4 separate regions of the Homo sapiens genome follow, and regions 2, 3 and 4 are each linked to region 1. Evidence: fine-mapped expression QTL. A gene starts in region 1. Each other region holds a variant in brackets. All regions are shown on one strand. Distances are between the middles of the regions.

Region 1 (8,106 bases):
TGCCCAGCTAGTTTTTGTATTTTCAGTAGAGATGGGGTTTTGCCATGTTGGTCAGGCTGGTTTCGAACTCCTGACTTCGGGTGATCTGCCCACCTCGGCCTCCCAAAGTGCTGGGATTACAGGCGTGAGCCGTCGTGCCCGGCCCGGTCTACTTTTAAGATCAGTCTAAGGCTGGGCACATTATCTCATGCCTGTCGTCCCAGCACTCTGGGAGGCCTAGGCCAGGGGGATCACGTAGGCCCAGGAGTTCAAGGCTGCAGTGAGTCGTGATCGCTCCACTGCACTCAACATGGGCGACAGAGCCAGACTCTTTTCAATAAAAGAAAATGATCTCAAGTGTACCCTGCGGAGGACACATGGGGCCAGCATGCGGCCTCCCCTGCCACTGAGCCCACCTTGGAGACATGGGGCCTTCCTGCCACTGAGCCCACCTGGGAGGGTTTCTGAAACTTGCAACCAAGAGTCTTGCTTGTACCACATGATTCTGCAACTGTCAGTCAGTACCAAATATTCACAGTGCCCTCACCCAGTCCAGAACATTCTTTTTTCTTTTCTTTTTTTTTTGGTGAGACGGAGATTTACTCTTGTTGCCCAGGCTGGAGTGCAATGGCGTGATCTTGGCTCACCGCATCCTCCACCTCCCAGGTTCAAGCGATTCTCCTGCCTCAGCCTCCTGAGTAGCTGGGACTACAGGCATGTGTCACCACACCCGGCTAATTTTGTATTTTTAGTAGAGACGGGTTTCCCCGTGTTGCCCAGGCTGATCTCGAACTCCCGATCTCAGGTAATCCACCCGCCTCGGCCTCCCAAAGTGCTGGGATCACAGGCGTGAGCCACTGCGCCCGGCCCAGAACATTCTAAGTAAGTGAAGGGAGGAAGCCTCCAAAAGCCATGTCAAGGAGGAAGAAGGGTGGAGAGTCAGGACCACACACAAGTGGCCCTGGGGGTGGGAGTAGGCTGTGCCCTCCCCATTCCTTAGGCCAGAGCTTGACCCCCAAGGCTCCTGAGCGGGCCCAGCCACTCAGCTAACACTGCGCATGGCACACAAGGGCTGCGGGCTGGCTCAAATTACATACAACACCCAACCAAACGCACGAGGCGGGTTACGCTTAAACCATACGACGGCTGTGCGGCATCGTTTTCTTTTCTGCCTCAATTTATCTCACTAGCAGTAACCCCGAGTTCAAGTCAGCCACACAGGGAAGGTGGATTTCCCTGCAGTCAGGGCACCACAGGCTCCACTTCAGAAGCAACGGCACGCAGAACCCAAAACAAAGAACACACAGCATACACCTGCCCTGGGCATCTCTGACATGGTTGGTGCTCCTGATAATCTGCCTTTTAAAAAAGTGAAGACTAGCTAGGTGCAGCAGCACATGCCTGTAAGCCCAGCTACTCGGGAGGCCGAGGCAGGAAGATCCAGAGCCCAGTTCAAATCCATCCTGAGTAACAGCAAGACCTCGTCTCTTAAATTAAAAAAAAAAAAAGGAAGATGACAGAACAAATTTGAAGAAATTAGAAAGCTATCTGGTTCCACAGTTCTACCTAAAAACCCATTCACACCACAAGTCCAAATTCCTAAAAGCTATGAAAACCATTTTTTCCTAACTCACTTGACAGCAAATCCTGGTCTATCATAATAACCTCATTTGGGATAAAACCTGACATGAACTGATATGGGGTTAATTACAGACTTTAATTATCCCACAGTGAGAATATTTATTCATTTAATTACAGAAATATTAATGTATTCAATTACAGAATACTTTCCCAAGTCTTCTGGGAGTATCCCACGATATACAGGTTATATGCTGCAATGACCATTCTGAAACCTGAAAAATTCTGGAAGTGTAAACATCTGTACTCAAGGGTTCAGATTACCAGCCATCACCATGTTTACACAAGACAGCCTAAACTCCCATAGCCTATGTTCTAAGGTTGCTGTTCAGACAAAACTTAATTAAGTATGTTTATATAAAATACTTAATTCAGCTTTCACACTCTGTTTCAGTTCAAAGAGGCTTCAAAGTACTTAGGAGGCTGCAGGCCACCTATTAAGTTTACAAGGAGGAAATCTACAGCTCCTAATTGCATTGGTTATTTTTATCTCCTGACTTGCCTAGATAGCAAAGGGAAACAAGTTCTTTTGCACAACCTCAGCAGCTGCCCACATTTCCTTGTTCTTCTTCCTGGGTGCTAAGTGACCCACAAGCTTCTTTCTTTATACGAATCTTCCTCTCCGGGCCCCAGTGAGGGTGCATTCTCCATCCCTCCCACCAAGATCCGTGCCATCTTCTGCTTGGCCCCTTCCCAAAGCTCACACTGTCTGTACCACCCCTAAGGATCTGTCCCTGTGCTGCCTCTGTCTCTCCACCCCTTGAGCACAAGTCTGAAGTTCCAGAAAGCAAGTCCTGTCCACAATAAACTTCTTAAAGAATGAAGATAACCACCTAGTATTTTCAGAATAAATGATTTGATCTGAGAGAAATCTTCCAACTGATGTGAAAGAATATCACACTTCAGCCCCCACTTCTGAAAGAAGAGCTTAGACTTTCTGACCAAATCATACCCAAAATCTGTTTGGTTTTGACCACAATGGAGACAAAGTGTGTGATAATGCTACAGTCAAAATGTCTCCGCAGGCCTTTTGTGATAATCAGAATTCTGGGATAGTCTCCTGTCTGGTCACAGAGCAGGCACCTGGACAGGCTAACCCTCCAGCCCTGAGAGGTACCAGGGAGCTGGTGAGGGTGAGGGCTTTTGTGTCGCTTCACTCCCTCTCCCTGTGCCAATACAGCAGAATAGAGTTACGCTTCCGCACCCAAGTCAACTGTGTTTAGCCCATAAACTTCACAGCCAGTGAAATATGACACACCTCCAGGCACCACTGGACAAAAAATGTAAGGAAAATCCACAAGAGAGAATGGGACCCACTGGCACTGGTGATCGATTCCGTGTGAACGGAGAGGACATCCAGGGAGCTAGAAATAGCATGCAGAGACAAAACTGACTCAAGACTGACTCAAGAGGACTTAAGCCGAGTGACCTGTCCACTCTGCAAGTTCTATATAGGTCACAACCACTGGCTCTGCTTCCTGTACTACACACGGAATCACACGAGTAGATGTTCACCGGGAAGAGAAACACTGAGGTGTTGAAAGACGAAGGGGGATCACGAGACACAGCCCAGTCTACCCTCGGCCAACCCCCCCACCCCCCAGGCTACAACCGCAACTACCTGCAACACGTGTGCACCCACCAACTCTCAAGTTCCCTGGACTGTAGAAGAACCAGCCCTAACCTCCAAAGTCCAGTCCTGTCCCTGCCTGCTCAATAACCCCAGATGTCCGGCAAAAGGCCAAGGCTTAAACCCACCTCCTGCACCGCTCACCTCCTGACTCCAGCTGTCGGCCTTCTAGGCACCGTCCCTCAGTCTCCGCTGTGGGTCCCCACCCAAGCTCCCTGCCTGCCACCATCCCCCACCTCACCGTAACATCTTCCCCCACCCACCCTGAGGGGGTTCCCCAAGCCCCAGGCCTTGCTCCGACTTGACCCTACTCTTATGACAAGAAAGTACCCCGACCCGGTCCCAGCCTCGCCCTCCGCAATCACCGCCAGCAGGCACTCACCTACGCCCGCGCTATGACCTTCGCCTGGCCCTGACCCACGCCCTCGGCAGAGACCCTCCCCTGGCCGACCCTGACCCACGATCCCGCTGGGACCCTCCCCAGCCCTAACCCACGCCCTTCCACTCCGGGCTGACGCTGCCCCCAGCGTCCCGGAGACAACACTCCGCGGCCGCACCCGCGCTGCCGACCCGGGGCCTCACCTTCGGCCAGGACCCGCCGCACCCGCAGCCGCAGCTCGCCCAGTTCCACCGTCTGCCCCACGAAGTCACTCTGGTCGCGGCCGGAAGCACCGCCCAGGGAGCCTGGACCCGCCAAGAAGTCGAGCGCCGACTGCAGCAGCGACATGGCGGTGGCTGCGCCGCACCCCGCGGCAGCCGGAGTGGTCGGGCTCGGGCTCCCGCTCCCTCGCCGTCCGGGTCAGCTCAGCAACCGCCGGCCCGGAGGTGCACCATCTTCCGCCTCGACGCCGTGACGTAGGCGCCCGTGAGGACGCGTCGCGTCAGGCGGCGACCCGGCCTAGCCCCGTCCCCTCCGCCGCGGCCTCACTTCCTGGCTGCGCGCGCAGGCGCGGAGGTCTGACGGAGACAGCGCGTGCGCGGCGTCGCCGGGCTTGCGATGAACTTCCGGCTGTCAAGCTCCCGGCCGGGCTGACTCAAGCGGAGGCGCGCGGAACAGTCGCCGAGGCGATTCCCGCCCAGGTAGTTCAGCGCCCCAGTCCAGCTCCCGGTACCGTTCCCCACATGGTCTGTTTTGTGGGAGGCTCCTTCTCAGGTGTCTCCGGTTTAAGCGCTTCGCCATCCTCTGGGTGGAGTCAGCCTCCCGTTTGCTGTTAGCGCCGCGTTTGCGAATGGGTTCGCGAATTTTTCTCTCAGTTGGCTAAGGAGCAAGGAGTTAGCGTGCGTTAAGCTTTCAGTAAATACTTGGTTTTCGTCTCATGGAGGTCGGAGTTTCCTGTGACGCTTAGTGAGTAAGGTTGGCAGCCCCCTCCCAGCAGCCAGGCAGGCAGTTTGCAGGGGAAACGCTGCTGCATTGCTCTGTCTTCCGAGGAGAGGGCCAGGGTCTGGCCTGGGGCAGTGACCAGTAGTGGGAGCCGTGGGCTAGAAAAACCTTCGTCCTGGGCAACCACAACACTGCAGAGACTGCCCTGTGACCCTCAAGGTTCGTTCTCACCCTGACATTTTCCAAGGCAAAAGCAAATCCTCATGAACCACTTGGAAGGGTTCGTAATGCCCAACTATTTGGAGATGAAATGGTGACTTTCCTTATAGGATAATAAGGAAATGGCTCACAGACAATGCATTTTTAGTTTTTGGCCCACACAGTATTTGGGGGTTGGGAGTGGGTAGCAGGAGGTGAATTAGTTGCTATCATTTAAAGACTGATGCCAGGCGCGGTGGCTTACACCTGTAATCCCAGTGCTTTGGGAGGCCGAGGCAGGCGGATCACCTGAGGTCAGGAGTTCCAGACCAGCCTGGTCAACATGGTGAAACCCCGTCTCTACTAAAAATACAAAAATTAGCCGAGCGTGGTGGCGGGTGCCTGTAATCCCAGCTACTCGGGAGGCTGAGGCAGGAGAATCGCTTGAACCCGGGAGGCGGGCGCCACTGTACCCTAGCCTGAGACTCCGCCTCAAAAAATAAATAATAATAATAATAATAATTGAAAGGCCTAAATGTTAAAAACCTAGTTTTCCAGCTTCTGTGGAAAAATCAAACCTGTCAATATTGGACCCAAAATGATGTGTGTTACCAATTACCTAGAGTGGTCCCTTGAGGTAAGACACAGTCATTTGCCTGACCAGATGGGCTCATGTATGTTACCTGCCTGGTTCCTATAGTCATTTAAGGTTGCAACCCCTTCAACAGAGTTATTTGTTCTCCAACTCAAAAATGGATTCTAAAGCTCACATCAGCCTCTTAGCCGTCCCAGAAGCTAACATCTGTTATCTTTATCATTAAAAGATAATAGCCTCAGCTCGTTGGAACACTTATCTATGTTATGGAATGAAGTATTGCATGAAGCCAAATGACATCTTTAAAAATATATATAACAAAAATAACAGTAGCAATAGCTTAGTTTAGGCACTGATTTATTGCTTACAACACCCTTTTCTGTAATAGTTCATTGTAGTGAAAACATCTTTGTGAAGAAAGCACAGTATAATTAACCCCCTTTATTTTGGGATGAGAAAATATGCTCAACAATGCCATTATTCGGCCAGGGCCAACAAGTGATACAACTGCAATTCAACGCAAGTCATGGCTTTTCCAGCCAGTGCGTTTGTCTGGTCGACTGTGGAATAGAAGGATAGAGAGCTCAGGAAAGAATCCCTGCTAGAGACAGATATCTGGGCATCCTCAGCATAGAGGTGGCAGTTGGCTCTAGGAGCTGAAGAGAGGACCAACAGAGATGGTGTACTAGACATAAAGAGGTTAGAATCTTCAGAGAATAGACAGTTTGTGGAGAAAGAGCAGTCAGTGAAGGAGGAAGAAAACCAAGAGAGTGTCGTAACAGAGCCAAGGAACGAGGATGTTCGGGGCAGAGAGTGCAGCTAAGAGTGTCGAATGCCACTTAAAAGTCAAGTAGAAAAAGAAATGGAAGATATGTGTTGGATTTATTCACAAGGGATCATTGGTGACCTCACCAAGAATAGCTTCATTGGAGTAATGAGGTGGAAGCTACATATTACCGTAGAGGGATGAAGAGATGATGAGGTAGAGATGGCAAGTGGAGATAACTCAAAATGTTTGTCTGTGGAAGAGAATATGAACAACTTCAGGCCAACAAATTCGGCACCCTTAGCTCCAGGGAGCTACAAGGGTGATGTAGTATTGAGATGTTTTAAGATGAGAGATTCTTGAGCAGCCTAAAGCGGATGGAAGGGAGAGAAGGTTTGCTGGTACAGAAAAAAGAGGAATAATAAGATAATTCTATCTTAATGAGATATCTTCTATCTCTTAGAACATAGGAGGGGAATGACATCAAGAGCATAGGTAGAGATATTTGCTTTGGACATAGGAAAAACACTCAGGAAGAAAAATGGGCTGCAGTTGTAGGTGACCTTATGTATTTATTGGAATGAAGGTGAAGGAATTCTCTAATGACTTCTGTTTTCATTGTGAATGAGGAAAGAAAAACATCAACTGAAAGTGAGAGGGGAAGTAGGAAACCCAAGATTTAAGCAGTGTCAAAAAGATCTAAAATAGCTATTATGAGAAACCTAGCAAATAACTCACTGGAAAGCATGAGAGCGTTTAAGCACTCATCTGGAGGCCATGAACTTATACTGGCATGACCTGGGATCAGCTGGACATTTCTAAACCTTGTAATCACTTTGGAAACCAGAGTCAGACTACTTATCTTACGAATATTTCTGGAGCACCTTTATTTATTGGCATTGAAGTAGATGCTATAGTAACACCATCTTAACCCAAATATCTATCTCCATATCTCATCTGAACTCTCAGATGTTTGTTCTTAGATACTGCTACATGTATAAACATGTATATATCCAAAACTGAAGTTATAGTCTTAATCCCTATAACTGATTTCCTAAATTTCATAGCAAAGAGTATTGCAAGAGATTAAGAGGATCATTTTGTAATGAAGAAGGGGTGAATTCATCGAAAAGACTTGATAATCCTAAACATTTATGCACCTAATAACAAAGCTCTAAAATACACAAAGCATAAACTAATAGCTGCAAGGAGAGAGAAAAATCACAATTGTAGTTGGAGAATATTCTTTCTCAATAAACGATAGGATAGATACCCAGAAAATCACTGAGGATATAGGCGACTTGAACATGACTGTCAGCCAACTTGACCTAATGAATGTTTATGGAACACTCCCCACAATAACAGCAGAATACACAATTTTTCAAGTGCATTAAAACATTAAGCCTGATCATATTCTGTTCTATTAAACAAGTATGTTATCTGACCAGAATGATATTGAATATTAAAGTAGAAATCAGTAACAGATTGGAAAATCCTTTCAATATTTGGAAACTGAATAACTCACTTTTGTTTTTTGTATATTTTTTCAACTCACTTTTAAATAACTCATGGGTCAAAGAAGAAATCAAAAAGGAAATTAGAAAGTATTTTGAACAGAATGAAAATGAAAATGCAGCATTTAAAACTGGTGGGATGCAGCTAAAACAGTATTAAATGTTAAGTCTCAAATCAGTGACCTCAGCAATCACCTTATGAAACTAGAAAAGTTGGCTGGGCACGGTAGCTCACTTTGGCAGGCTGAGGTGGGCAGATCACTTGAGGTCGGAAGTTTAAGACCACCCTGGCCAACATGGTGAAACCCCATCTCTACTAAAAATACAAAAATTAGCTGGGTGTAGCAGTGCATGCCTGTGCACGCCTGTAGTTCCGGCTACTTGGGAGCCTGAGGCAAGAGAATTGCTTGAACCCGGGAGGTGGAGATTGCAGTGAGCTGAGACTCTGTCACAAAAAAAAAAAAA
Region 2 (8,106 bases), 160 kb before region 1:
GTTTCACCACGTTGGCTGGGCTGGTTTCTAACTCCCAACCTCTGGTGATCCGCCCGCCTCGGCCTCCCAAAGTGCTGGGATTACAGGCGTGAGCCAGCGCGTCCAGCCGAAGGTTGCTTTTTTAAAGCATTTTTAGTCAAAGTCTTTTGAAAGATGAAAGGTCTGGCCTTGGTCACAGTAGTCCTGCTGTGAAGACGCATGAAGGTGCCCTGGGTCAGGGGAGCAGCCAATTTCACTGACACCCTGGGACGCACAACCAGGACCTGACCTCTTGCTGGGAGATTACCCCGAGACTTCAGTCATCACCATGCACACTGCCTTGTAGGAAGGCTGGGAACCCTCAGGTGGCGACAGCCCCCAGTCTGCCAGGGCCCCTCAGAGGTTGAGGGGGCAGGGTCCCTCCTCACATTTCTCACCTGCAGCTGGTGCCACAACTGTGAATGTTGGAGTTGTCCAGTCCCACAGCTTCCTCTGCCCCACAGCACAGGGCAGATTGGCCTGCAGGGCCTCATCACCCCCATTCTCTGAGAGGAGATGTGGCTATCTCTGGCAGGCCTCGCTCTGGCTGGTAGCTTTCTCCTGGGCTGCCATCTTCTAGTGCCAGTGAGGACTCTGGTCATCTCACCTGCTTAATTCCCATACTGTGTTGTCCACAGCTCTGCTCGGGTCTGGTAGTGAGAGGTGACAGTGTGCTGGCAGCCCTCTCAGCCCTCGCTTGCTCTCGGCACCTCCTTGGCCTTGGCACCCACTCTGGCTGCCCTTGAGGAGCCCTTCAGCCCGCCGCTGCACTGTGGGAGCCCCTTTCTGGGCTGGCCAAGGCCAGAGCCGGCTCCCTCAGCTTGCAGGGAGGTGTGGATGGAGAGACAGACGCGGGTGGGAACCAGGGATGTGGGCAGGCTTGCAGGCCAGCAAGAGTTCCGGGTGGGCGTGGGCTCGGCAGGCCCTGCACTCAGAGCGGCCAGCCGACCGGCTCTGCTGGCCCCGGGCAGTGAGGGGCTTAGCACCTGGGCCAGCAGCTGCTGTGCTCAATTTCTCGCTGGGCCTTAGCTGCCTCCCTGCAGGGCAGGGCAGGGCTCGGGACCTGCAGCCCACCACGCCTGAGCCTCCCACCCCTTCCATGGGCTCCTATGTGGCCCCAGCCTCCCCGACGAGCACTGCCCCGTGCTCCACGGCACCCAGTCCCATCGACCACCCAAGGGCTGAGGAGTGCAGGCGCACAGCACAAGACTGGCAGGCAGCTCCACCTGCAGCCCCAGCGCAGGATCCACTGGGTGAAGCCAGCTGGGCTCCTGAGTCTGGTGGGGACTTGGGAGAAGCTTTATGTCTAGCTAAGGGATTGTAAATACACCAATCGGCACTCTGTATCTAGCTCAAGGTTTGTAAACACACCAATCAGCACGCTGTGTCTAGCTCAGGGTTTGTGAATGCACCAATCGACACTCTGTATCTAGCTACCCTGGTGGGGACGTAGAGATCTTTTGTGTCTAGCTCAGGAATTGTAAAAGCACCAATCAGCACCCTGTCAAAAACGGACCAATCAGCTCTCTGTAAAATGGACCAATCAGCTCTCTGTAAAATGGACCAATCAGCAGGATGTGGGTGGGGCCAGATAAGAGAATAAAAGCAGGCTGCCCGAGCCAGCAGTGGCAACCTGGTCCTGTCCCCTTCCACACTGTGGAAGCTTTGTTCTTTTGCTCTTTGCAATAAATCTTGCTGCTGCTCACTCTTTGGGTCCACACTGCCTTTATGAGCTGTAACACCGCAAAGGTCTGCAGCTTCACTCCTGAAGCCATCGAGACCACGAACCCAGTGGGAAGAATGAACAACTCCAGACGCGCCGCCTTAAAAGCTGTAACACTCATCGTGAAGGTCTGCAGCTTCACTCCTGAGCCATCGAGACCACAGACGCAGTGGGAAGAATGAATAACTCCAGACGCGAAACCTTAAGAGCTGTTAAGACTCACCACGAAGGTCTGCAGCTTCACTCCTGAGCCATCGAGACCACGGACCCAGTGGGAAGAATGAACAACTCCAGACGCGCCACCTTAAGAGCCGTAACACTCACCACGAAGGTCTGCAGCTTCACTCCTGAGCCATCGAGACCATGAACCCAGTGGGAAGAATGAACAACTCCAGACACAGCACCTTAAGAGCCGTAACACTCACCGCGAAAGTCCACAGCTTCACTCCTGAGCCATCGAGACCACGAACCCAGTGGGAAGAATGAACAACTCCAGACGCACCACCTTAAGAGCCGTAACACTCACCACGAAGGTCTGCAGCTTCACTCCTGAGCCAGCGAGACCACAGACCCACCAGAAGGAAGAAACTCCAAACACATCCGAACATCAGAAGGAACAAACTCCAGACACGCCACCTTTAAGAGCTGTAACACTCACTACGAGGGCCCTCGGCTTCATTCTTGAAGTCAGTGAGACCAAGAACCCACCAATTCCGGACACAGTAGGACCCCCTTTATGGTGTGGGGTTTTTTTTCTTTTTTTGGAGACAGGGCCTCACTCTGTCACCCAGGCCAGAGTGCAGTGGTGCAATCATGGCTCACTGTAACCTCGGGCTCCTGGCCTCAAGCCATACTCCCACCTCACCCTCCAGAGTAGCTGGGACTACAGGCACCACCACACCCAGCTAATTTTTTATTTTTGTAGAGATGGGGTTTTGCCATGTTGCCCAGGCTCGTCTCGAACTGAACTCAAGCAATCTGCCCACCTCGGTTTCCCAAAGTGCTGGGATTATGGCAGGAGCCTCCACGCCAGCCCTTTTTCTTTATTTTGTGTGTGTCTGTGTGTGTGTGAAAGAGAGAGTACCATTCTGTCACCCAGGCTGGAATGCAGTGGAGCAATCTCAGCTCACCACCAACCTCCACCTCCCAGGCCTAAGCAATTCTCCTGTCTCAGCTTCCCAAGTAGCTGGGATTACAGGCACCCACCACCACACCCACCTAATTTTTGTATTTTTAGTAGAGATGGGTTTCACCATGCTGGCCAGGCTGACCACAAATGACATTCCTCAACACAAATGATCCGCCTGCTTCAGCCTCCCAAAGTGTTGGGATTACAGGCGTGAGCCACCTCACCCAGCCTTTTTTTTAATGTTGGCTTTTCTTCTGTTAGATCAGCTCCAGAAGCAGCTTATCCTGTGTCATTTAATCTCATCAGAATTTAACTAGGATTGCAATGAATGTACAGTTTACTTTGTGGGGCAGCTGACATCCTTCACCCACGATGTGGCATGTCTGCCAACTCACCCTCTTTTAGCATCTTCCTCAGGCGGTCCTTACACACTTCTCTTCCAGCTTTTGTGATTCTTTCATATGGAGGTGGAGGGTTGTGGCTCATGCTCCGATGGGTTATTGTGGAGTAGAGAAACCCACTGGATCTGGCACGGACTGAACTCCTCGGCTGGTCCTCAGGGTTCCTCAGGGGATTTTCTTGGATTTACATGCAGATGATTGTATCATCAACAAACTACTAAACCCTGTCTCCAATATTCATCTCCTTCCCTCTTTTTCAGTTCTCTCACCCTGCTGGGATGTCTGGAAAACACTCACAGTGATAGCAAGGAGAACTGTGCTTGTCTGACTTTAATGGGAATACTTTAAATATCTTGACTTAAGCATGATTGCTGCAGGGTTTTGACAAATACCATTTACCAAATAGAGAAATTATCTTCTGTTACAGCTTATTAAAAATCAGGAATGCCGGGGGCAGTGGCTCACACCTGTAATCCCAACACTTTGGGAGGCTGAGGCAGGTGGATTACCTGAGGTCAGGAGTTCGAGACCAGCTTGACCAACATGGAGAAACCCCGTCTCTATTAAAAAAAATAGAAAATTAGCCAGGCATGGT[G/A]GCACATGCCTGTAATCCCAGCTACTCAGGAGGCAGGAGAATTGCTTGAACCCGGGAGGCAGAGGTTGTGGTGAGCCGAGATGGCGCCACTGCACTCTAGCCTGGACAAGAAGAGCAAAACTCCATCTCAAAAAAAAAAAAATTCAGGAATACGTGTCCATTTTTAAAAATGTTTTAATATTTTAAACTAAAATTTTTAACTTTTTTGTTTGAAGCTTTAACACATGTACAGTCACGCGACCACCACCACAGTCCACACACAGAATGGCTCCACCCCCAAATCTCCTTAGTGCCACACCTGACCACGGCGCCTTCCCCCAACCTTCCTTCACCTCTTCCCACCCCCATGGTGCCCAATGTGTCAGTCTCTCCCCATTGTCACTGCAGAGGAGTATTTCACTGCATAGATATACCACAGTTTACCAGTTCACCCAATGAAAGGCATTTGAATTTCAGCTTTTGATGATTATGAATAAGGCATCAGTAAACATTTACGTACAGTTTTTATGTGGACTTAAGTTTTTCATTCTCTAAATACCCAACAGTGGGATTGCTGGGTCATGTGGCTGTGTACATTGAACTTTATAGGAAACCACCATGCCGTCTTCCATTTCCAGCAGGTCCACACCCTGGCAGCTTGGGGCACCACCAGCATTCTCTTGCACTGCGGCTGTGGTGCAGGTGCCTCGTGTCCTGCGTGGTGGCTGAATCTGCATTTCCTGGTGGCTGGTGGTGTCAAGCCTCTTCTCCTGTGCCCAACAGTCAATGCTGTGTCATTGCTGGTGCATGTCTGATCAGGTCTTTTCCACTTTTTAGTTGGACTGTTTTCTTACTGTTGAGTTTTAAGAGTTCTCTGTGTATTCCAAATACAGGTCCTTAGTTGACAGGTGATTTGTGAATATTTTCTCCTCATCTTTTCATTCTTTTCACACTGTCTTTGGTAGTTCAAACGTTTTTAGGTCAGGCACGGTGGCTCATGCCTGTAATCTCAACTACTTTGGGGCCGAAGGTGGAAGGATCACTTAAGGCTAGGAATTTGAGACCAGCCTGGGCAATACAGCAAGACTCAGACTCTGGAAAAAATTTTTAAAACCAGGAATAGTGGCTTGCACCTCTAGTCCCAGCTACTCAGGAGGCTGAGGAAGGAAGATGGCTTGAGCCCGGGAGGTCGAGGCTGCAGTGAACTATGACTTACCACCACACTCCAGCCTGGACAACACAGCATGACCCTATCTCAAAAAAGTAAGTTTTTAATTTTGATAAAGTCCAATTTACAAATTTTTCTTTTATGGATTCTTCTGTGGATTATGCCTTTGGGATCATGTCTAAGAACTCTACCAAATGTCATCAGGTACAAAGGTATTTTTCTGTTTTCTTCCAAACATTTTATAGTTTTGTTTTACGTTTACATATGATTGGAGTTAATTGTGTACAATGTGAGGTTTAGGCCAAGGTTCCATTTCTACCATATGGATGACCAACTGCCCCACTGCTCTGTTGAATGGACAATCCTTTCTCCACAGGGTTGCTTTTGTTTGCACTGCTGTCAAAGATCAAATGGCCCTATTTATGTGGGTCTGTTTCTAGACTCTCTGATCACTGACCCATCTGTCTGTTCTTTGCCAATACGACAGTCTTGATTTTTGTGGCTTTAAAGTCTGTTAAAACTGTGTAATGTGATTCATCTAACTTTTTTGTTCTTTTTAAAACATTGTTTTATCTATCCTTTTTACTGTTTTAGCTAGCTCCTTCACCATTCTGTATACATTTTAAAATCATCTTTTCTAAATCTAAAAAGAGTCCTACTGCAATGTTTTGGAATTTTGTTAATTTCACAGATCCTTCTGAGACTGGCATCTTATGTTCAGTCTTCCAGTCTATGAGCGTGCTGTGTGCCGTCTCTCCACATACATAGTCTTTTTAGCATACAGATCCTGTTTTGTCTTGTTAGATTTATACCTCTCTCTCTCTCTCAGGAGCTACTGTGTTTTTAACTTCAGTTTCCAATGTTTTATTGTCTATAGAAGTAAGATTTTTTTTTTTTTTTTGAGACAGTCTGGCTCTGTTGCCCAGGCTGGAGTGCAGTGACATGATCTCGGCTCACTGCAACGTCTGCCTCACGGGTTCAAATGTGGCATGATCTCAGCTCACTGCAACCTCTGCCTCCCAGGTTCAAGCAATTCTCCTGTCTCAGCCTCCTGAGTAGCTGCGATTACAGGTGTGTGCCACCACACCCGGCTAATTTTTGTATTTTTAGTAGAGACAGGGTTTCACCATGTTGGTCAGGCTGATCTCCAACTCCTGACCTGGTGATACGCCTGCCTCAGCCTCCCAAAGAGCGTTGGGATTACAGGCATGAGCCACCACACCGGGTCTTTTATTTTTTTTGAGACAGAGTTCCACTCTTGTTGCTCAGGCTGGAGTGCAATGGTGCGATCTCGGCTCACTGCAGCCTCTGCTTCCCGGATTCAAGCGATTCTCCTGCCTCAGCCTCCTGAGTAGCTGGGATTACAGTGCCCGCCACCATGCCTGGATAGTTTTCCTATTTTTAGTAGACACAGGGTTTCACCATGTTGGTCAGCTGGTCTCAAACTCCTGACCTTAGGCCATCCACCAGCCTCGGCCTCAGCCTCCCAAAGTGCTGGGATTACAGGCATGAGCCACTGCACGCAGCCCTAAGATTAATTTGTATGTGTTACTGGTGAACATTCCAAACTCACTTACTGGCTCTACGAGGGTCTTTGTGGCAATCATTGCTGTTGCTTTAGATGAGTGTTCTCTATATAGACAATCATGTAGTCTGTGAATAAGGAAGTTTTATCTCACCTGTAATCCCAGCACTTTGGGAGGCTGAAGTGGGAAGATCACCTGAACCCAGGAGTTCAAGACCAGCCTGGGCAACATAGTGAGACCCCCCCGTATCGACTAAAAATACAAAAATTAGTCGGGCTGGTGGCACATGTCTGCAATCCCAGCTACTCTGGAGGCTGAGGCACATGCTCTCTGGAAGGAGGTGCCTGGGTGTGGCTCACCCTCCTCTTTTTCCCTGCTACCTAAAAGGAGGTCCCCAGGTGAAGCTCACTCACAACTCAGAAAGTTCAGGTCACCTCTGTGAGGGCATATCTGCATACACTATTTGGACTCGGCTGGATGTGCATGCCTCTGGTCCCAGCTACTTGGGAGGCTGAGGTGGGACAACTGCCTGAGCCCAGGAGGTCCAGGCTGCAGCAAGGCAACAGCGCACCATTGCACTCCAGCCTTCTGAATGACAGAGGAAGATCCTGCCTCAAAGAACAAATATTTGGACTCCTCCTGCATGGTCAATTGTCTCCTCTCTCCCATCTATTTATTAATTCAGTCTTTTATTTTGGAAATGGGATATTACTAGGCCTTGACTCCTGGGCTCAACTGATGCTCCCACCTCAGCCTCTGAGTAGCTGAACTACAGGTCCCACTCTGCCCAGCTCATTCAGTCACTTATTACATCAGCAAAGACTCATCGATATTTCTTCAGCCCTGTGCATTATAATCCAATGCTACTTTATTCTGCTATTCAAGTTATTCCAGCCTCGCCCATTGGGACCCCTTGTCGCTGTGTCCCTTTGGCCCACAGTTGTGGGTTGTTTTTTTTGTTTTTTTGAGATGGAGTTTCACTCTTGCTGCCCAGGCTGGACTGCAATTGTGTGATCTCAGCTCACATCAACCTCCATCTCTCAGGTTCAAGGGATTCTCCTGCCTCAGCTTCCCCAGTAGCTGGGATTACAGACATGCGCCACCACACCTGGCTAATTTTGTATTTTTAGTAAAGACGGGGTTTCTCCACGTTGGTCAGACTGGTTTCCAACTCGCAAACCTCAAGTGATCCGCCCGCCTCTGCCTCCCAAAGTGCTGGGATTATAGGTGTGAGCCACCGCGCCCAGCCTGTGTTGTTTTTTAAATCATTTCCAGGCTCATGGTGTATACCTTCTGCGCCAGTCCTAGGTGAATTTCTCCTGGTTGGTGAGTTTTCATTGTTTACCTCTGCTCACACAGGGACTCGAGGAGGGAGACTAGGACTCAGAGTCCTCCTTCATCTTGTCACTTCTCTAAACAATTACTTTTTGTTGAAGACGCCATGTAAGCTGGAATTCAAAGCCATCTCTTTGAACAACTGTGTGAAATAATCGTGCTAAACTGTTATTCTCCTTTAATCGTTCCAACCAAGCACCCACGGGGGCCATTATTCCTCTCCTACAACTGC
Region 3 (8,106 bases), 36 kb after region 1:
GGCCGTGGCTGGGGGCAAGGACACACTCGGGGCTTCGTGACCCACTTGGCAGGCAGAGCCGCCTGCGGTCACCACTTACCACTCACCCCAGGGCAGGCAGCTGACGGGAGAGAGAAAGCGCGTGTCGGCCCCAAACCTGGCTCTGCCCACAGAGCGAGTGGAGCTGGGGTGGGGGCTGCATCCTCGGGACAGTGGGGATGGCCACCCTGTCCTGAGCCAGGCAAGGCCGGGTGTAGGGGCACAGGAGGGAGGCATAGCAGGGAGCCACAGGCATCTCCCGTCCCAGCCACAGACAACTCATTCTGCTCGAGTTCTGCTTCGCCTGGACTGGGGTCACGATCAAGGGTCAAGGTTCAGGGGTAGAACAGCCATGGACACCTGGGGGGTCCTCATGGGACCCTTTGGGGGCTAGATGGGCTGAGGACGAGAGGCCAATGTGAAGGCACGGTGTGCAGCGTGGAGTCCCAGGCTCCAGCCCCTCCATGGGCCAGAACCCCGTTCCCCCCGGCCCTGCCCTGTCTCCACGGACCAGACCCCCGTTCCCCCCGGCCCTGCCCTGTCTCCATGTTCCAGATCCCCCTTTCCCCCAGCCCTGCCCTGTTGCCAGGTGCCCCCTCTTCTGGGCACTGTGGGTCTGAAGGGCAGCGTTCAAAGTTTGGGAGCTGCACTGACTGGCCTGGGGAGCTCCAGGCAGAGAGCAGAGGCCCTAAGGCCTCCCGGGCAGGGGGAGTGAGGCTGAGGCTGTACCGGGAGGGCCATGCCTGGGATCCTGACAGCTGGTCACAAACACGCTCTGGCCCTTGGCGAGGCAGCCGCAGCGGGGCCCGGCACATCCAGGAGCTGCGTCCTGTGGGCCTCCCTACTGGGTGGAGGCCTCAGGTGCAGCGTGGAAGCTGGGCCTGACCCCACGGTGCCCCACGGAGCTGGTATCACCTACTGGGCAGCCTCGGATGAGCGCTGACCCTCTGACCTCAGGCCCCTTGCTGTAAAACGGGCAACAGAGTCCTTCCTGCTGTTGTGAGGCACAAACAAGGTGGCACCTACAAGCCCCCAGTGAATTCAAGGAAGTGATGCCAGATGAAAACAGCGAGTCTGGCTGTGGGGCCTGTGCACCTGCAGACCCCGACCTCCCTCTGGCCACCCCCTGGGGTGTGTGAAGAGCCGGCTTGACCGCACACTCACCAGCAGGTCGGGGAGCACCAGGGCAGTGAGCAGCCGGCCCCGCACAGCCATGTCCTTCAGCAGCATGTACAGCCGCTCGGCCTCCGCAAAGCAGGCAACGTCCAACACTACCGCGCCTGCGGCAGGAGCCCAGGACTCAGGGGGAGCCTGTCCCATGGCCCCCACGGTGCCAGGGCAGGAACCAAACCAGGACGTTTCCCCAGCCCAGGGCTGCCCAAGGGAAAGGTCAGGTGCTACGTGAGGGCCAGGGCTGTCCCACTTCACCCCAGGAACACCCCTGGGCCTCATGTGACCACGTCCCTCAGGGCAGCTCACCTTGGGAGGAGTAGATGTGACTCACGGACACCACGGTGGCTGCAAAGGCAGGCTGTGGTCAGGGCGGTGGGAGGCGAAGGACACACAGCACTGGGGCCAGGGACAGCCCCTCCGCCTGTCCAGGGGTGACATCTCACCCCAAAGGCAGCCTCCCCAGGAAGTACCCCTGCCCCACTCCAGGAGCAGGACTCCCAGCTCCCTGGAGGTACAGGACCCCCCAGAGGGAGAGGGAGAGGCAGAGGCTGAGCACCGCAGGGAACGGCCACAGAGGGCGAGAGGCTCCAGAGCCTCTTGGAGGAAGAGACGTGGGCTGGACCCGGAGCTCAGGCCTTGGTGGCTCAAGGAGAGGCAGGAGCCGGCTCAGCACTGCAGCCCCACTGCCTGCCGCTCGACCCTGCCCCGTGCCAGCAGCCCACGGCCAGCCACAGTGGTCACACCTTTGGTAGCCCCGGCCTCATGCAGCAGGCTGCTGTACTCCTCGGGAGACAGGCCGGGAGGCAGGCCGCCAACAAACAGGGAGACGTGCGGGGCTACATCCCTGCTCTCTGCCACGTAGAACCGCGTCTGGCTCACCTGCCGCACAGACATCTGCAGGGAGAGGGGCGGGGATGCTGGGCCGGGGAGAACGGCACCACCGCACCAGGCCCTCTGTCTCCTCACCCGCAAAACAGCAAAACAGGGCATCAGGAACACTCCCAGGAATTAAGTCAACAGGAAAACGAGGAAAGGGGCCACAGAGGCTTCCTTGCTGTGGACAACCCCTGTCCGTTCCCCTCGAGGACCTCGGGGAGATCTGCAGCTCGAGGCCTCCCTGCAGGGACCAAGTAGCTCATGACGAGGGCGCTGCCCTGTCAGCCAGGACAGCCGCTGCCTAGCCAAGGAGAACTCGGCGTCTGGGGCACACCCACCCTGTGGGGCAGAGGCTGTGGCTGAGGGCTGCTGGTTCCCTGGGGGCCGGCGTCCACACCCACTCACCTGCCGGATGTCCTGTAGCCGGTCCAGCAGGGGCTGTTCGTCCATCAGCATCGTCCGCTGGACTGCAGAGGTGAGGGCACAGGCCGTCAGCACCCGGCTCCTCGCCCACCTTGGAAGCAGCTGCCCGGAGCCCCCAGGGCCCGTGGGGATGCAGGGTGGAGCTGGTCAGGAGGGCAGAGCCCGGCCTTGATGTCCGGCACCACCCTGCAGGAAAGCCTGGGCAGCAGGTCCAAACCCAAAAGGTGCAGGGACCGCCACGCCCAGCACGGGCTGTCTACTCACCGTGCCTGCAGCCCATCGCCACCTCCACCAGCTGGAAGCTCTCGGGACTCTCGGCCTGTTGGGGTAGAGCTTGGCATCGGGTCTGGGCAGGCCCCCACCACCTCAGGACACCCGCGGGGACAGCCACGCCTGGGCTGGGATGGTGGCCTGGCCTCCTGGGGACAGCGACCCCCCACCGAGTCTGGCCGGCATGGGGAGCAGGCACAGGGTACGCACCTGGCGGCCGAGCAGCGGCAGGACCTCCAGCACCACAGAGCGGGCCGTGCTCTTCGGGGTCACTCGCACGGACACGTAGGCCACGCCCACCCTGTGGGGACACAGTCTGAGCTGGAGCTCCCCCCACCCCGCCCAGCAGACCCTGAGCCTCGGGCCCAGTCTCACTTGAGCCAGCCAGGGTAGATCTTCAGGACCTCCTGGGCCCGCGGCAGAGCCCGGATGACCCAGGCCTCTGGCGTGGCCTCGCCGGACCCGGGGCTTCTGCCCTCCTCCGAGATCACAGCACTCCCAGCCTTGCCCCCAGCCCAGGCGTCACAGGCCTGAGAGGAAGGGGGCAGCCGGCACAGCTCCAGGTGGCCAGGGTCCTCGGGGATGTGGTGGGCCCGCAGTGCGGCCTCCTGCAGGGCACCAGGTTAGAGGGGCCAAGTTGTGGGGGGTCAGGCGGGGTTCAGTGGGGGGCAGGTCATGGAGGGGGAGGCCAGGTGGGTGAGGGGCGCCAGGTTGGGGGAGCCAGGTCAGGTGC[G/A]CCAGGTGCGGGGACATGCGGTCCTGGGAGGGGGCTCAGACCTCCCCCAGCCTCCCCCTTACCAGCACCTCCTCGGCACCGGCCAGGCGGGACACCGTGACGAGGCGGAACTGGCTTCTTCTCACCGCGTCGTCGCCATCAAAGATCTTCAGCGTTTGCTTCCCTGGGCCGGGTAAGCTCCGTGAGTCCCGGGCGCCCGGGGGACCTCAGTGGAGTTGGGGGGAATGAGGCGGGCACTTACCGGACTCCGGAGTTGCCTGTGTCTCTCTGCCTGGACCCACGGCAGCGCTCCCGTCGGCGCCGTCGCCCCCCTCGCCTGCGGGTCGGGCACACGGACCCCTCATTCAGTGCGCAGCCCCCAGCCCAGGGCGCCCCGGCCGGCCCGCACCTCACCCGGCTCCGCGGCCTCCACGATGCGGAAGCTCTGCGTCTTGCTGAAGCCGCCGGGCAGAAGGCGCACGCACGCGGGAGGCAGGACCAGGGAGCGCAGACGCCCGAAGCCACACTCGGGAGCCAGCGCCGCGGAGCAGAGGGAGTGCGCCTGGGGGGAGAAGGGCCTGAGCTGGGGGGTTGGAGCCAGGGTGCGGGGGCACCAGGTGCGCCAGGTCCAGGGAAAGACCCCACACGACGCAGACCCACCTGGACCCCGTGTCCTTCCTGCCGCCCGCCCCCGAGCACCCACCTGGAACCCGCGCCTCTCCTGCCCCGCCCCGCCAACTCCTCCACCTCCCAGCACCCACCCAACCCCGCACCTCTCCTGCCCCACCCCCACCCCCTCGACTTCCCAGCGCCCACCTGGACCCCGCACCACTCGCAGCGCACGCCGGCCAGCACGTCAGAGGAGCCGCACGTCTTCCTGCAGACCTCGCAGCGCGCTCCCGAGGGCAGGTTCCCCTCCCGCCAGTGGTGGTGATGGGTGTCCTGCAGAGCGGGGGCAGTCAGCAGCTGGGCCCGCCCCACCCCCCAGGGCTCCCTGGGGCCGGTACACTCACGTGATCCTGGTGCCCATCCTGGTGGCACTGGCGGCAGTCACTGCAGGCGAAGGGCACACAGTCTGGGTGGAGGTGCAGCTCACACACTGGGGGGCAGGCAGGGTTAGAGGTGTCTGCCGCCCCCGGAGGACCCCTGCCTCTGCCGGTGCTTGGGTCTGCCCCATCCCCACCACCTAGCACCCTGCATCCTTTAAGTGTCCTGTGGCCTGCCAGGCGGCCAGCCCTTGGCCTCCCCCATCACCCCTGACAAGCTGCACAGCAGGGGTGGGCTGGGCCACCCTGGGCAGCAGAGACCAGGACACTGGGTGGGGAGCCAGGCAGGCTCCAGGTACCTTCGCAGTGGAGCGCCGGTGCCTCCAGGACCTTGCGGCAGACAGCACAGAACTTGCGCTTGTGGAGCCCCCGGGGGCCGAAGCAGTGGGCTACAGGAACCTGGTGGGGCAGCCTCACCTCAGCACCCTTGGTAAGGGCAACAGGCTGCCCGCCACCCCTCCTCGCTCTTCACCTGCGCAACTCTGCAGCTCACGCTCCTGCTGAGAACTGCCCAGGCTGAGCCAGCTGTGCTAGCTGGAGGCCCCAGGAACAACCACACCCCCAGGTCCTGGGGACAGCCTGGCTGGTCAAAAGCAGGGAGGAGGCTGTGGCCTCCTCCAGCAGCCCTGCCTAGCGCAGGGGAGCGAGGCCCCAGGAACAACCACACCCCCGGGTCCTGGGGACAGCCTGGCTGGTCAAAAGCAGGGAGGAGGCTGTGGCCTCCCCCAGCAGCCCTGCCTAGCGCAGGGGAGCGAGGCCCGCCTGCCACCCCTTCCCTCCTTGGGGCAGGCGAGGCTCTGTCGACGGCCTGGCATCTGTCTCCTCCGAGCCAGGAAGATCCCAGCACACAGGGACTGCCCTCTGGGAGATAATCTGGCCATAACGAGTGTGGACCAATGTTTCTGTGTTGGAGAAAGCTGGGCTGTTGCTTTTCCACGAGAAGGGAAGGAGAAGGACCAAGTCTTCACTCCTGACTCTCGCCCTTGTCCCCAAACTTAAACCACACCCGATAAAAGCATACACAGAAAGACCGTGTTCCAGAATAGCAGCTGTGAGCATGCCAGGATGGCGGGTGACTTTTATTTTGTTAAATATATCTCCTTTTTTTTTTTTTTTGAGATGGAGTCTCGCTCTGTCGCCCAGGCTGGAGTGCAGTGGCGTGATCTCGGCTCACTGCAAGCTCCGCCTCCTGGGTTCACACCATTCTCCTGCCTCAGCCTCCCGAGTAGCTGGGACTACAGGCGCCCGCCACCACACCCGGCTAATTTTTATATTTTGTTTAGTAAAGAAGGGGTTTCACTGTGTTAGCCAGGATGGTCTCGATCTCCTGACCTCATGATCTACCTGCCTCGGCCTCCCAAAGTGCTGGGATTACGGGCGTGAGCCACAGCGCCCGGCCGTTAAATACATCTTCTAAATTTCCTATCATGCATACAGTTGAAATACATACTTATATTTTCCCAATTTAGCAAAGTATAGAAGACATTAAAATCAATTTTAAAAAGCGGCAGCCTCGGGCCGTCCACATGACGAGGGGCCGCCCAAGCCAGTGTGGAATCACCAGGGTGTCGGCCACCACCAGGACCACCGGCCTAAGGCCTCCTGCTCACACCCGGGGAACTGCATCATTAGGAACAGGGCGTCAGACATTAGAGGGGACGGCGCAGCCGGATGCCCGCCAGTGGCAGGTGTGCCTGCTGGCCTGGCTTCCCGTCCTGCTGCACACCCGGGCCTGCCTCGCGGCCTGCGCCCCACCTGCAGCCTGAACGCATCAGGGAATGCGGACTTGGGGGGCCTCAGTCTGAAGACGGCGACGCTGACAGCTGAGGGAGGAATAAGCCTGGCCCTTCCTACATGTCCCTGCTGTCACCACTGTCACCAGAGAAGGGAAGTCCCCTGTGCCCTGCAGTGACCTGGGCCAGTCACCTCCCTGCCCCACCCAGAGCCCTTAGAGGGAGGGTGGTGGCCAAGACACCCTCAGGCACCCAGGCTTCCTGCCTTTGCTTTTTATTCAAGCTTCCTTGAGATGCTTGTGGGTTCACACATAGCTGTGAGGAAACTGAACAGACCCCCTGAAGCCTTTGTCAGCTCCCCTAAGTGTGTGATCTTGCAAACTGAGGTCACGCCAGATGCCGAAATCTCCATCCCCCCCAGGAGCCCTCACGCTGCATGTCACAGCCACGCCCACTTCTCCGCCTGGAAACCTCTCTACATCTGTGCTCCCTTTAGTTTCGTCATTTTGAGCACATTCTATGGACAGGATCTTGCTATTTGCGACCTCGGGGACTGGCTTTTATCACCATCATTCCCTGCAGATCCATGCAGGGTGCTCAGCCTTTTAATCCCGAGCAGTATCTGCCCTTTGCCTTTCAACTGCAGGTATCACTAACGTCTGACATGAAGGTTTTCAGTGCCTCGACCCTACGAGAGCTGACACATCCCCCAGCCTCTTGCAGGTGCAACACCCAGCCCCACACTCACCCGGACCAGGCTGGGTGCCACACTCGTGCACGGGATCCTCACGTGCTTCAGGCACTTCTCATGAGACATGAAATTGCAGACTGTGGGAATGAGCACTGTGTGAGTTGGCCCCTGTCCTACCCAATGGCTGTCCTACCCAGGAAGTTAGAGGCCCCAGGGCAATGACTGCCATACCCACCATGCTGCACCAGGGGCCCTGTGGTCCTCGAGTTCCCCCACCACCCTGCCCACTCATTGGAGAGAGCCTGCAGCCCAGGAGCCCAGGAGCAAGAACCTGGGTGGTCCTGACCATCCTGGAGGACAATGAGTGTATCCTCTCATCCAGAGAGCAGTCCCTCCCCTTCGCACGTAGGCCCAGCACTCCTCCTGCCTCTGCAGTTGGGCCTCTCAAGGGGCAGCCCTGGGCTCACCAGGTTCGCCAGGTGGCAGGGGCTTCTCGGCCTTCGGCAGATTGGCTTTACCAAGGACATCTGTGTCTCACTCCCCCGAAACTACGCATACCCCTAATTGTCCCTGCTACGTGCTGTGCACCGTGCCTGAGACCGAGAGCCACCCAAGGCAGGTGAGGGCTCTGGGAGGCAGGAGCCGCTGGGGAGTGGACAGCCCCAAGCCTCCCAAGGAGCTCTGGCTGTGTGCATAGGACCCAGGGAGCACCTGAGCCGGCGGGGTGCTCAGGAGGGCATAAGAGGAGCAAGCGCCACACCCCAGCAGTAAAACAGACAGGAGGGTGGGGCCGGGGCAGAAGGGAGGGCAGGAACCCTGGGCTGGGGCAAAGGCTGCGGGGGCTGGGAGTGGGCAGGGCACCCAGTGACACAACTGCCAAGACAGCCCCGGGTGAAGGTTGTGCCACGGAGCCCCAGGCAGTCCAGCTGGGACAGGGAGCTCTTCCAGAAGGCCCCGCTGGTGCCGCCCTTCACCTGCTGCAGCCCTAGCCACCCCAGTCTCCAGATGGGACCGGGAGAAGCTTCTCCTGGCAGCTTAAGAGAAAAGCTCTGGAAGCAGGCCAGGGTCCACCGAGAGAAGGGGGGACAGGCAGCACCCAGGTCCCTCCTCTGCCATGGAGACAGGGCCTGCTCACCCCACGCCCCACGCTTGGGTCTCCTGGCG
Region 4 (8,084 bases), 200 kb before region 1:
GCCGCGTGCTGCCTCCGCCCCTGCCCCGTGCTGCCTCCGCCCCTGCCCCGTGCTGCCTCAGGCTCTGGGAGACACAGCCTCAGGAGACACCGTGGAAGCCGCGCCGGCCCCACAAGTGAATGGGGAGGAAGGGGTGTGAGCATACAGCCCAGACTCTAAACTGGGCCCAAGGGTCGCGCTGTGAGCCGCAGAGGGTCCAGGTGCCCAGAGCCTGCCCATCCTCATCCCACCCGGCAGCTCTGCCTTCGCGGGCTCCTCCTGCTCCTTCCGCTTTCACAGAAGACAGACAGCTCGGGGATCCTGCCTCTCTGCAGCTTTATGGACCCTCCTCAGTCCTCACTGCAGGAGGAGAGGAGGGGGTGTTGGGCACAGAGAGAAGCCAGTGCGGGGGAGCCGGGGGCTTTTGAAAAGGTGGGCTTGTCCCAGTGCACGCAGACACTGGATTGCTGACCGTGCCCTGCACATGGGAGCCTGGGACCCCGTGAGCCCAAGAGGCTCCTGCCACCCAGGCCTCAGGGCCTGCACTGTCCTCCCTGGGGGCGGCTGTCAGAGCTCAGCCAAGGATGAAAGGCATGGAAGAGTTTCAGGTGTTAATTAATCGCGTTTTCTCTTGTAGAAGCCAAAGATGTTGACCAGGAAGATCAAGCTGTGGGACATCAACGCCCACATCACCTGCCGCCTGTGCAGCGGGTACCTCATCGACGCCACCACGGTGACCGAGTGTCTGCACACCTGTACGTGCCCTGCCCGCGCCACCCAGGGAGGGCGCGCCCTTCCCAGCTCTGTGCTCTTCAGAACCTTGGCTTTTGTGTTACCACACGCTTTTAGCTCAAGCCCGACAAAAGCAGGAACCAGGACCAGGGGCAGAGACGATCTTGAAGATAAGTCAGAAAAGTCATTTCACGCTAAAGGTCCTGTGGGTGGTGTCAGAGCAGATGAGGCCTCGCTTAGGAGAGCGAAACACAGGAGAGACCCCACATTCCTCCCACGGAGCAGCAAGGCCAGTAGCCGCTGTGACAGTGCTCACTGCTGGCAGTTTCCAAATCTCCAGAGGAGTTCCTTAGATCCTTCAAAGGGGAACCTTCCAGTGTGTTCTTCACACCTGATGTGCGTCCTCACACCTGATGAGTCTGTGCTTTGGTGTTAGAGGACTCACACCTGGGGCTGGACCTGAGTGTTTTTCTAAGTGTGGCTACCGCTGACGGGCAGGTGCCATCCATCAGGCTGAGGCTCGGCTCTTATGCTAACCTGAGGCCCCATGGCTGGCGGCCCTGCTGGTGTGGACGACCGCTGTGTGCGTCTCTTGATGGCTGGGGAGCATTTTGTTTAAACAGGATCTTTAAAATGAAGTGTACGCTTATAATACAAGTGATGCTTGTGTATTTCTCACTTTAGGAAATAAAATATTTGCCAATTTGATAGAATTTTGACTTTAACGTTAATCGTATTTTTAGATATTGGTTAGCATATTTTATGTTAGGTTATTTTCATTTGATTTTATCTAGTTGTACGTAGAAGATACTGTCATCTTTTAGGACAAAGTATTGTAAAATTATCTGTTTTAGCCCATGTTCTGATGACCCACAGCTCTGTCACCTTTGAGCATCATCTCCCCATTCTAAGTTTTTTTCCCACTTAATTCCTAACCCTGCCTCTTTGAGGAAGCCCATTGACGGGGCAATTAAAACCTTCTCATTGCTCCTGAGACCAGAACGGCAAGATGTTTCCTTTCAGAAGCTGAGAGCCACAAGGAGGACAGCAGTGAGCATCTGCACAGAAACGAGCTCAGAGACGCCCGTGTTCAGTGGAGCACGCCGATGGGGTGGGCGCCCTGGCTCTAGACGCTCTCCTAACACACCTGTGCTTTGATGACAGTCTGCAGGAGCTGCCTGGTGAAGTACCTGGAGGAGAACAACACCTGCCCCACCTGCAGGATTGTGATCCACCAGAGCCACCCCCTGCAGTACATCGGGTGAGTGTGGGCCTTCCCAGGCCACAGTACGTGGGGTGAGTGCCCCTGGGCGTCTCTGTGTGTGGGCCTTCCCAGGCCATTAGCGCTGTACTCCCATCCTGCCTTGGCAGCAGCCTCTCCTGACCAAGGGCACCCCAGGAGCTGCACACGAAGAACCTGGGTCCAGCGCTCACCAGGCCATCCTGCCAGGCCTGCCCAGGCTGTGCCTGCACATACATTTCCATCAATACTTAGGTAGGCCGGGCGCAGGGGCTCATGCCTATAATCCCAGCACTTTGGGAGGCCGACACAGGCAGATCACCTGAGGTCAGGAGTTTGAGACCAGCCTGACCAACGTGGAGAAACCCCATCTCTACTAAAAGTACAAAATTAGCTGGGTATGGTGGTGCATGCCTATAATCCCATCTACTCAGGAGGCTGAGGCAGGAGAATCACTTGAACCCAGGAGGCCGAGGTTGCAGTAAGCGGAGATTGCGCCGTTGCACTCCAGCCTGGCGACAGAGCGAGACTCTGTCTCAAAGAGAAAGAAAAAATACTTAGTCAAGTTAAATTGTTGGAGAGCCCTCAAGACCAAGTTGAATCTCATGAGTTTTACGCAGAATTTGCTGAAGTTAAATTTGATGTGAGCCGGCCCTTGGATACCCCTTTCACCTTTCTGCCATGGAGCAGATGGTCCTGGGGCCCTGGCCCTGCTGCCCCTGACACATGGCCAAGGTCTTTCTCCCTGCGCTGTGCTCTTCTGCCCAGGGTCACAGCGAGCCTGGACTCACCCCTGGGCCAGCCACCATTTCTGGAGAAGGCAACTCTTGCCTGGACGTCAGCAGGAGGCCAAGGGGCCAGCCAGGTGGAGCGTGTGGTTCTCACACAGATTTGGGAGGTCGTTCAGATTTGGGGGGTTGCTCCAAAGGAAGGGAAATGCTCCCCGTACCATGAGGGTAGTAGAGATAATTCTGAAGACACATTTTGAAGGAGGAAAGGCAGATGTGTTTGTTTTTCCCTTTTATTATTATTATTTTTCTTAATTTTATTTATTTTTCTTGAGATGGAGTCTTGCTCTGTCGCCAGGCTGGAGTGCAATGGCGCCATCTCAGCTCACCGCAACCTCCACCTCCCGGGTTCAAGTGATTCTCCTGCCTCAGCCTCCCGAGTAGCTGGAATTACAGGCGCATGTCACCACGCCCAGCTAATTTTTGTATTTTTAGTAGAGATAGGGTTTCACCATGTTGGCCAGGCTGGTTTCAAACTCCTGATCTCAGGTCATCTGCCCGCCTCAGTCTCCCCAAATGCTAGGATTACAGGTGTGAGCCACCACACCCGGCCCTCACAGACTTTTCTTTACATTATTTGGAAACATTCTAGAAAAGCCTCTGTTCATTGGAAATCCCACAAAGACCAGGAGACCCCAGGAAGCACTTGGTGGGAGGGGCAGGGACAGTGTCCCCTGAGCGCATAGGATGCAGGGAACCCGGGGTGTCCGCAGGGACGGTGTCCCCTGAGCGCATAGGATGCAGGGAACCTGGGGTGTCCGCAGGGACGGTGTCCCCTGAGCGCACAGGATGCAGGGAACCTGGGGTGTCCGCAGGGACGGTGTCCCCTGAGCACACAGGATGCAGGGAACCCGTGGTGTCCACAGGGACGGTGTCTCCTGAGCGCACAGGATGCAGGGAACCCGGGGTGTCCGCAGGGACGGTGTCCCCTGAGCGCACGGGACGCGGGGAACCCGGGGTGTCCGCAGGGACGGTGTCCCCTGAGCGCACGGGACGCGGGAAACCTGGGGTGTCTGCAGGGACAGTGTCGCGGGGAACCTGGGGTGTCTGCAGGGGCGGTGTCCCCTGAGCGCACGGGACGCGGGGAACCTGGGGTGTCTGCAGGGACGGTGTCCCCTGAGCGCACGGGACGCGGGGAACCTGGGGTGTCTGCAGGGACGGTGTCCCCTGAGCGCACGGGACGCGGGGAACCTGGGGTGTCTGCAGGGACGGTGTCCCCTGAGCGCACGGGACGCGGGGAACCTGGGGTGTCTGCAGGGACGGTGTCCCCTGAGCGCACGGGACGCGGGGAACCTGGGGTGTCTGCAGGGACGGTGTCCCCTGAGCGCACGGGACGCGGGGAACCTGGGGTGTCTGCAGGGACGGTGTCCCCTGAGCGCACGGGACGTGGGGAATCTGGGGTGTCCGGCAGACAGAAGCACGGGTTCCCAGAAGAGCCTTCTCTGTCATTATTTGAAATGTTTGAAGCAGCCAGAGCCCAAGTTAAATGACGCGTTAATTCAGCTCATACATGGCTTTTGGTGACACATTTTTTCATGTGT[A/T]AACTAGAAGTAAAATTCCAACAAAGCTCCAGACTGGTGATTCTGAACTTTGATATTGTTAAATGGAAAGTGTACAAGAATTATAGAATTAACATTTCCAGCTAACTCCACCTTTCTGTTCTTTTGCCAGTCATGACAGAACCATGCAAGATATTGTTTACAAATTGGTACCAGGCCTCCAAGAAGGTGAGTGTCTGACTGTCTTGCTGATCCCTGAGGTCCCAGCCTGGCCTCTGCAGCCCCTGCTCTCCTGGAAGTTTGGTTCTCGGATGGGAGGCCCCTTTCCTTTTGGCCGAATCACCGTCTTCTCATCCCTGCTCTCAGCCCAACTTCATCTCCTTGGCTGGTCTCTTCTTTCGTCTAAGATGCGTAGACATCTTTTTACCCCTTATGTGTATTCATTCAGCAAGTATGGATCGCATGTTTAGCACATGGGACCCCCAGGGCTCAACGCAGCTCCTGCCCCTCCCAGGACCCTGCCTTCTTCCTGGGCCCCACCTCCTGTCCCAGGCCTGCCTCCCCTCATCCCACAGCGCCAGCTTCCCCACAACAGAGGAGCAGCACGTTGGCATAGCGGGTAGCTGGTGTTTCTAGAAAAACTTCACCATAAAGTCAAATTTCATTTAGAATTAAAAGAAATACCAAGTAGTACAAATACCCTGAAAGTGGAAATCGGTTGCTTGGGGATCGCTCAGCTGAAAGCTCCCCAGCTCCCGACACTCTCACGGTGGTGGCCCTCCGCTGGCGACCGGCAAGGAGGCCAAGGAGGGGCCAGGTCAGCGCCAGGTGGGCTGTCCTGGTATTCTGCTCATCAGACCTTTCAAAGGCAGATAGAGAAGCTGAGAATTCACTTGGGCTGGTTCTCACTGTATCTCAGAAGAGGGTTGGAATTCAAAACACAGCTGAATATGCCAGATCCGTAGAAACCGTATCTCGCCTTTAATGCGTGACCCAGAGAATCATACTGTTAGAGGCTTCTTCCCTACTCACAGAGTTCATTCATGCAGGAAGAATTTAGATTTCCTGAGTAAACGTAGATAGAAACAATTAGTCTTTTAATATCTGAAAGTTTTTTAGTCCTGAGAAAAGGCAAAGGATACATTCGAGTTAAATGCTGACACCTTAAGAAACGTTTGCACCGAGTGTTTCAGACGCGTAGCAGTGGGCGGGATCGGGGCGGGACCCCAAGTTTTGTGACCCCCGCCAGTGCTGACACTTTAAGAAACGTTTGTGGCCGGGTGCAGTGGCTCACGCCTGTAATCCCAGCACTTTGGGAGGCCGAGGCGGGTGGATCATCAGGTCAAGAGTTTGAGACCAGCCAGACCAACATAGTGAAACCCTGTCTCTACCAAAAATACAAAAAAAAAAAAAAAATTAGTCGGGCGTGGTGTCAGGTGCCTGTAATCCCAGCTACTCAGCAGGCTGAGGCAGGAGAATCGCTTGAACCCGGGAGGCAGAGGTTGCAGTGAGCTGAGATCGCGCCACTGCACTCCAGGCTGGGCGACAGAGCAAGACTCCGTCTCAAAAAAATAAATAAATAAATAAAGTGTGCACTGGAGCGTTTCAAACGCTTAGCAGTGGGCGGGATCGGGGCAGGAACCTCGAGTTTTGTGACCACCACCCCCCGCCAGCAGTTTCTAGGCGTGGCCGTCCTTGCTGCACCTGCTGCTCCCTCAGCCTCACCCCGTGGCCTTTGATCTGTAAAGGCTGCAGTACGTATCCCCAAAAGATAAGGGTTCTTCTTAAAGCTCATAACCACAATACCTTGATAATGTTTAGGAAAATAGTAGAGATTCCTTAATACCAAATAGCCACTCAGTGCTGACATTTCTAGTTGTCTCATAAATGCGGTGCTTTTTGGTTGTTGTTTATTTCTTTATTTATTTTGAGACCTGGTCTCTGCTGCCCAGGCTGGAGTTCAGTGGTGCTATCACAGCTCACTGTAGCCTCAACCTCCCGGGCTCCAGTGATTCTCCCACCTCAGCCTGCCAGGTAGCTGGAACTACAGGCAAGCACCTCCATCCTGGCTAATTTTTTGTAGGGATAGGGTTTTGCTGTGTTGCCCAGGCTGGTCTTGAACTCCTGGGCTCAAGCAGTCCTCCTGCCTTGGCCTCCCAAAGTGCTGGGATTACAGGTGTGAGCCCCCACACCCAGCCTGTTTTTGTTTATTCCAATCAGGATCCAGAGAATACCACTGACTCACGGGCCTCCTTCTGGTTCCTGCCTCTGCCTTCCCATTGTCCTGGGTTGTCCTGCGGCAGTGGACCTGGGTGCGTTCCACCCGTGTTTTTGGGAAGCCCGCTTCTGGGCATCCATCAGGGCAGGTGTCGTCCATGTGCTGAGCCGGGTGGCACTGAGATCTGCATGCCACCTCCGTTCCATCGCTCGTCTCCACGTGTTAGTTGGAGTGTGCGTCCAGCCTGGAGCAGGTTGTATGTTCTCGTCCACCTCAGCACGCTCTTGTCCGGTGTGGACGCTGCCAACTCCACTCTACGTTGAAGAAGTCGAGAGGCAAGAGGTTCCGGAGTGCTCCAGATTGACACCCCCAGGGCACGGTGGCCCCGAGCCGCCTCCCTGACCAGCTCCTGTCTCTGGCCACCATATTTTCCGTTGAGTCAATATTCTTTTTCTTGTTGTTTCTCAAGCTTTCAGTCATTTGTGGCTCTTTAGCAGGAGGATTCTAACTTTAAAACTATTAGCAGTGCACCTATTTTCTTGATGGAGGCTACTTGCAATTTGTTTAGTTTTATCTGTGGTGCAGACAATTGCAAACCTCATTTCTCCGACCAGAGGCCTCTTCCTGAAACGCGCGTTAGCTGCGAGGATGCAGTGGTGAGGCGAGGTGTCAGCCCTTGAGGGTCCAGGTGTCTGTTTTGGAGGAGACGCCAACACGGTCCTGCCCCTCCCACCTGGACTCCGGGCAGGCCCTCAACGCTGTCCCCGCACCCCCACATGGTGGGGGCTTGCTGGAAGAGAGTTCCCTGCTAGATCAGAGGTGGGGTTAGGTTTTTAGTGGTTTGTTGTTTCTTTTTGTTTTTATAAATTATTTTAGAAACCTGTCTTCGTAGAGGCAACATGTTTAAAACATTTATCAAAGTGTCCATTCTCAGTCTCAGCCCACTCTGGGCTCTTTCACTCGGTGGGCGTGTCATGGTCTTTGGTGTGCCAGGCTCCTGTCCGTTCCTGGTGAGGGCTGTGGGGCTCACGCACTCACCAGTCCTCTTTCCATGGATCCTGAACATGCCTGTCACCTCTTGCTTTAGAAACGTGGGGGCCGGACACAGTGTCTCATGCCTGTAACCCTAGCACTGTGGGAGGCCGAGGCAGGAGGATCCCATGAGCTAAGAATGTTTCTTTACATTTTTAAATAGTTGGAAAAAATCAAAAGCAGCGTATTTTATGATGTGATAATTTAAGAATTGAAATTTCATGGTGCGTAGCCTGGTTGGAACCAGCCCCACTGGCTCAGCTGTGGTCGCCTTCACCCGTAAGCCCGTCCGTGGTGCAGCTGAGTGTGTGCCAGGAGTGTGCTGCCTGCCTGCCGGTGGCTTTGGGCAGCCCTCTGCACCGTGGCTGGAACTCATCGTCACTGCATTGGGACGTTTTCATGACGACGTCAGAACGAGGAAAGGAGAAAAGGGGACTTTCAGGGCTGCACTTCGAAGCCGCAGTGAACTCTGGATTATTTTGTTGTTGAACTGTCATTGTTGATGGCAAAGCACCGACTTTCTCATCCGTCATACTGTAGCTATGCTGAGAGCAAACAGCCGACGATGGAGTCACTGACTCAACACCAGCAATATC

The links. PIP is the estimated chance that this variant, and not a neighbour inherited with it, causes the effect.
Region 2: its variant is fine-mapped to the expression of TMEM175 in whole blood (TOPMed, PIP above 0.99).
Region 3: its variant is fine-mapped to the expression of TMEM175 in whole blood (TOPMed, PIP above 0.99).
Region 4: its variant is fine-mapped to the expression of TMEM175 in whole blood (INTERVAL, PIP 0.96).

What each region holds. Positions count from the first base shown.
Region 1 is chr4:928,214-936,319 of GRCh38, forward strand. TMEM175 (transmembrane protein 175) reads left to right here and starts at 4,247. Exons shown (of 11, transcript NM_032326.4): 1 at 4,247-4,327. GAK (cyclin G associated kinase) reads right to left here and starts at 4,103. Exons shown (of 28, transcript NM_005255.4): 1 at 3,830-4,103. The coding sequence starts at 3,974. RefSeq lists a silencer at 3,889-4,208 and an enhancer at 4,369-4,688.
Region 2 is chr4:772,702-780,807 of GRCh38, forward strand. The region is part of intron 1 of LOC124900163 (chloride intracellular channel protein 6-like); the gene reads right to left. All of the region lies in intron 1 of PCGF3-AS1 (PCGF3 antisense RNA 1), which reads right to left. Among named protein-coding and RNA genes, the nearest start is that of PCGF3-AS1, 5.1 kb to the right of the region's middle. The variant G/A (reference allele first, on the strand shown) is at 3,867.
Region 3 is chr4:963,994-972,099 of GRCh38, forward strand. DGKQ (diacylglycerol kinase theta) reads right to left here. Exons shown (of 23, transcript NM_001347.4): 2 at 7,000-7,079; 3 at 4,818-4,917; 4 at 4,486-4,571; 5 at 4,289-4,414; 6 at 3,887-4,034; 7 at 3,735-3,809; 8 at 3,556-3,656; 9 at 3,136-3,368; 10 at 2,971-3,061; 11 at 2,755-2,809; 12 at 2,473-2,534; 13 at 1,935-2,085; 14 at 1,498-1,536; 15 at 1,183-1,298. LOC124900645 (a long non-coding RNA gene) reads left to right here and starts at 4,890. Exons shown (of 2, transcript XR_007057989.1): 1 at 4,890-4,948; 2 at 5,352-5,948. RefSeq lists enhancers at 3,950-4,663, 4,664-5,377, 5,725-6,243, 8,080-8,106. The variant G/A (reference allele first, on the strand shown) is at 3,494.
Region 4 is chr4:733,056-741,139 of GRCh38, forward strand. It overlaps PCGF3 (polycomb group ring finger 3), which reads left to right. Exons shown (of 11, transcript NM_006315.7): 4 at 617-734; 5 at 1,876-1,972; 6 at 4,411-4,466. The coding sequence starts at 626. LOC107986246 (a long non-coding RNA gene) reads left to right here and starts at 6,372. Exons shown (of 2, transcript XR_001741543.2): 1 at 6,372-6,889; 2 at 7,652-8,084. The variant A/T (reference allele first, on the strand shown) is at 4,281.